2 separate regions of the Homo sapiens genome follow, and region 2 is linked to region 1. The links come from fine-mapping of genetic effects on gene expression. Tissue or cell type: macrophages. Region 1 holds a variant in brackets; the other region holds the start of a gene. All regions are shown on one strand. Distances are between the middles of the regions.

Region 1 (2,683 bases):
GATAGTGATGAAGGTAGCACGACACTGTGAGTGCACTAAATGCTATTGAATTGGACACTTTAGAATGGTTGAAATAGTGATTTTTATGTGAATTCTACCTAAACATGCTATTACAGCTCATATATACTTTTTCCATCTGGATTCTTCACAAAAGAATATGTTGTGAGCATCTTTCCATGATATTAAATCATCTTAGGAAACATTATTTTGTGTTCTTCAAAATGTGCATGTTAAGTATTCAAATCAGTCTTAAATTTTTAAAAATATGTAATTTTAGAAAATAATTTAAAAGGTTTTGTTTCAGTTTGTAAGATTTCTTTTCTGGCACTTTAATGGCTTGAGGTATCATTATCAGTTACAAATTGAGTTATTCTTCATCAAATGACTTTTGGAGTAGAGATTTTATTTTTATAGCAATAGATGCACAGATATTCCTGTAAGATACAGGTGTGGTTAGACACTTTTCTAGAACAGGCATGCCCTGCAAACTCCACAGACACTGACTGTTTTTGTCCTATTAAGAAGTAGACCACTGAGAAGGGAGAAGGTGACATTTTAGCTTTCCCAGGTAAAAGTGGTTTTCATCCTCACACCAATTTTATGGACTGGACGTTAACTCTCTTGCTCAAGGTCACTCTGAGTGGAAGAGTGGGGATAAATCTGGTTCGTTTGGCATCAGAGGCCATGACTTTTCCTACCACAGAAGTAATTTTCAAAGTAAGTCTCTGCCCTAGGCACATCAGATCACCTGGGGACCACTCCAGAGTGAGTAGACAAGACTTTGACAGGGGTGCCTAATTTTTTTTTTTTTTTGAGATGGAGTCTCGCTCTGTTGCCCAGGCTGGAGTGCAGTGGCATGATCTCAGTTCACTGCAACCTCCGCCTCCTGCGTTCAAGTGATTGTCCTGTCTCAGCCTCCCAAGTAGCTGGGATTACAGGCACCCACCACCACATCCAGCTAATTGTTGTATTTTTAATAGAGGCGGGGTTTCGCCATGTTGCACTGGCTGGTGTTGAACTCCTAACCTCAGGTGATCCACCCGCCTCGGCCTCCCAAAGTGCTGGGATTACAGGCCCGGTCCAGTTTGATAGTTTGTTATCATGTTATACGTACACTTAGAATAATGATCCAGCCATCTCATTCTAACAGCAATGAGAACTTAGGCTCCCCTCTCTACTAAAATACAAAAGTTAGCTGGTCATGGTGGTGCGGGCCTGTAATCCCAGCTACTCGGGAGGCTGATGCGGGAGAATCACTTGAAACCCACAGGCGGAGGTTGCAGTGAGCTGAGGTGGTGCCACTACGCTCCAGCCTGGGGGAGGGGGACATAGCGAGACTCGGTCTCAAAAACAAAACAAAACAAAACAAAACAAAACAAAAACAAAACAAAACAAAACAAAACACTGCCAAACTGTTTCCAAAGCATCTGCATC[G/A]TGTTTAATTTCCATAAGTAACGTATGAGAATTCTAGGTCCTCCAAATAATTAGCAGTCCTTCGTAGTGTCAGTTTTTGTTTCAGCCTTCCTTATGGGTATGCTGTGGCATATCCCTGAGATTTTAATTCGCATTTTCCAGTGACTAAGGGTGTTGAACCACTCGTGCCTTCCTGTGCCTATTTGACACTCCTATATTTTCTTTGGTGAAGTGTCTGTTCAATCATCTGCTCATTAAATTTTCCTTCGGTTGTTTGCCTTCTTATTGTTGGATTTTGAGAGTTCTATGTACAAGTCCTTTGTCAGTCGTGTGATTTGCAAGTCTTCTTCCTAGTCTCTGAAGTTTCTTTCTTTCATAGAGCAAACGTTTTAAATTTTTATGAAGTAAGACTTCTCAGTTTTATTTTTGGTGAATTATGTTTATACTGCCATATATAGGAACTCTTTGCTTAACTGGAGGTCATGGAGATTTTCTCCTACATTTTCTTTTAAAAGTTTTATAGTTTCAGAGTTTACATGTAATTCCATAATCTCCATTTAGTTAAATTTTGTATGGGGTGTGAACTGTGGTTTGACTGTTTTCTTGTATATGGATATCCAATTGTTTCACACAATTTTTTTGAAAAGAATATCCTTGGCAGGGCACGGTAGCTCACACCTGTAATCCCAGCACTTTAGGAGGTCAAGGTGGGCAGATCATGAGGTCAGGAGTTTGAGACCAGCCTGGCCAATATGGTGAAACCACGTCTCTATTAAAAATAGAAAAATTAGCCAGGCGTGGTGGTGTGTGCCTGTATTCACAGCTGCTTGGATGGCTGAGGCAGGAGAATCGCTTGAACCCAGGAGTCAGAGGTTTCAGTGAGCCGAGATTGTGCCACTGCACTCCAGCCTGGGTGAAAGAGCTAGATTCTCTCTCTCAAAAAAAAAAAAAAAAAAAAGGAAAGAAAGAAAGAAAAGAAAAGAAAATCCTTTTTGCTTTAACTTGCCTTGCAGGTTTGTAGAAAACTCAATTGTTGAAATTTGGGTGGATATATTTCTGGATTTTCTATTCTATTCCATGTTGGACCAATACCACACTGCCCTAGTCACTGTTGCATTATAGTATATCTTTAAAGGAGTAATGGGAATCCTTCAACTACATTTTTTCCCCAATAATTTTTGGCTATTCTGCTTCCTTTGTGTTTCTATGTAAATTTTATCATCAGTGTGTCTATTTCTACAAATAGTCCTGATAGGGTTTGAATTGGGAT
Region 2 (2,683 bases), 460 kb before region 1:
TCCATCTGCATGTGTGAGCTGGGTGTAAGCATGTCCTTGAGTCTTCATCTATGTGCTGTCTGAGTGTGTGCAGGCAGCGTGTGTGCCACACCTGTGTGATCATATTTGTGTGTGTATGTATGTCAATGTGTGAGCTGTGTGCGTGCAGCTGGGTGTGTCTTTCCTGAGCCAGGTGTGCAAGTCTGCGAGTGTGCTGTGTGTGTGCAGGTTTGCATCTCTGTTACGTGACCTAGAGCTATGTGTGCCAGCGAGTGTGTCACAGGCCATGTGTGTGCGCCGCTGGTCCGGCGGAGGCGGCGGCTCCTGCCTGGTCCTGCCCCGTCCGGGCCCCGGGGCTGGGCTGGGGAGGCCGTTCACTCCCGAAACCCCCACCCCGCCCAGCGCCAAGCCCCACACTGGCGTCTGGGACCCCTGGCCAGGGGCCTTGGCCCGCGCCCCTCCCCCGCCCACCAGGCCTCCCGTAGCGGTGAGGGGGGTGCCCCCGCAGCCCCCTCCCCGGCCCAGCCGCGGGTCCCGCTTTGTCTGGCAAAGAAAGCGCGAGGCCGGCCGGAGGGAGGGGGTGTCTAGACGGCGCGGCCATTGTCCCGAGCGGGGGAGGGGAGGGAGGAGAGGAGGAGGGGCGGGGGCCCCTGGCCGGCTGGGGAGGGGCTCTGGCCGCGGGGAGGGGGCGCTGGAGCCGAAGGGGAGCACGTGGGCCCTCGCCCCTTCCCCTCCCCGCGCAGGGGCGGGGTCCCAGGGCCTCCGGGTCCCCGCGGCCAGAGGAGAGAGGCGGGCTGCGGGCGGGGGAGGGGGCGCGCGCGCCGCCGAGGCTCCGGCTCGGAATCCGGCTCCGGGTCTTGCTGCGCGCCGGCCTGGGAAGTTTTCTCCGAGTTCAGAGCTCCCAGAACTTCGCGCCCCCTCCCCACCCCCCGCCTGGCCCAGCCCGCCCGGGGTGTCGGGGGCGGGGTGGGGGGGCTTTTGTGCGAGAGGTCCCCGGCCTAGAAGTACCTGGGCCCCCAATCATAACCTACCCAGGACTCCAGGCGTGAGTTGGATGGGGACGAGTCCCGAACTCTGTACGCACCCCCCCACCTCGAGTCCCTGATCCCCGCACCTCGAGCTCCCAGTCTCGGACTCCTGGGTCCCTTCATCTTCAGCTCTAATCGCTCAAGGGTCCCTGTTCCTTGGGCCTCTGGGGTCCTCCCCATTCTGAATCTCTGGGTCCTCCAGGACTGGCATGAAGCCCGGGGCTCCTGCGCCCCTTCCCCGACCCTGGTTCCTGCCTCCCATGAACCCCCGCCAGCCCCGGCCTTGGGGGTTCTTGCACTCCCCCTCTGCCGCCCTCGTCCCATCCGCCAGGTCCCGGCCCCTCACCTGCAGCCCCCGGCCCCGCTAGCAGCAGCAGCAGGGGCAGCGCCCGCACGGGTGGCGGTGGCGGTGGCGGCGACATCGGGCGACGGCGGCGGCGGCGGCCACGGGCCCCCGGCCCCATGGCGGCCGGCCGCGACCCTCCCCTCCTCCCTCCTTCCCTGGGCTCCGGGCGCGTCCCGGGCCAGCCTCCGCGCCGCCAACTTCGCCGAAGTGAGGCGGCCGGGCCGCCCCGCCCCCAGCCCTCGAAGGCTCGCCCCGCCCCGGGGCCGGCCCAGCGCGCCCCCGCCCCCCGCCCGGCCTCCCGGGGTCCCTGCCCACCCTCCACCCGCACAGCCTGGGACGCGCGGACCCTCGGAAACCCAGGCCGAGCATGCAGTGAGACGCGGGCAGAACCCGGAGTGGCGGGCACACCCAACCTCGTGAACGCCCACGCACCCCATCCCCATCCCCCAGTACACACCCAGAGCCGGACACCTCTGGAGCCGGGACAAAAAACACAGCCTCCCAGAAACTCTGGAAACTGAGGCCAGTCACGTCCTGAGAGGCTCATGGACCCACAGCCACGGACGCACAAATGCAAGCCCATGCACCAAGCTTCCCCAGGACTCTGATCTAAAACATTCACAAACCTAAAAGTCGGACCGGGCGCGGTGGCTCCGGCCTGTAATCCCAGCACTTTGAGAGGCAGAGGTGGATGGATCACTTGAGGTCAAGAGTTGGAGACCAGCCTGGCCAACATGGTGAAACCCGGACTCTACTGAAAATACAAAAATTAGCTGAGCGTGGTGGCGCACGCCTGTAGTCCCAGCTATTCGAGAGGCTGAAGCAGGAAAATCGCTTCAACCCAGGAGGCTGAGGTTGCACTTAGCCGAAATCGTACCACTGCGCTCCAGCCTGGGCAACAGAGTAAGACCCTGTCTCAAACAAAACAAACAAACAAAAAACCGCTAAAACTCACTCAGCCAGGCCAGGAGCCTAGGACTACATTTGCAGCCTCAGACCTCAGACACGTACTAGGAGTCACATGCATGTGTGTGTGTTCACACATGCACACACAAACTCTTCTTGCTCTCAGCCCTCCCAGAAAGCAACCCACTTCCTCTGTGACTCTCAAAGGGTCACCCCAGCCCCCTAGTCCCACCCCCATACCCCACACAGCTTTGGGCCTCAGCCTATCTGGCTCAATTTGATTAATTCTCTTTTCTTTTTTTTTTTTTTTTTGAGACAGCGTGTCGCTCTGTCACCCAGGCTGGAGTGCAGTGTCCCTATCTTGGCTCACTGCAAGCTCTACCTCCCAGGTTCAAGCGATTCTCCTTCCTCAGCCCCCACCCCC

What was found. PIP is the estimated chance that this variant, and not a neighbour inherited with it, causes the effect. A credible set is the group of variants that fine-mapping cannot tell apart.
Region 2: it holds the start of NOTCH3, and the variant in region 1 is the best candidate, but not a certain one, in a credible set for the expression of NOTCH3 in macrophages (Nedelec 2016, PIP 0.67).

Annotation. Positions count from the first base shown.
Region 1 is chr19:15,659,922-15,662,604 of GRCh38, forward strand. CYP4F3 (cytochrome P450 family 4 subfamily F member 3) reads left to right here. Exons shown (of 13, transcript NM_000896.3): 13 at 1-2,683. Among named protein-coding and RNA genes, the nearest start is that of CYP4F12, 12 kb to the right of the region's middle. The variant G/A (reference allele first, on the strand shown) is at 1,435.
Region 2 is chr19:15,199,435-15,202,117 of GRCh38, forward strand. It overlaps NOTCH3 (notch receptor 3), which reads right to left and starts at 1,561. Exons shown (of 33, transcript NM_000435.3): 1 at 1,354-1,561. The coding sequence starts at 1,471. RefSeq lists a silencer at 631-857 and enhancers at 1,444-1,945, 1,946-2,445.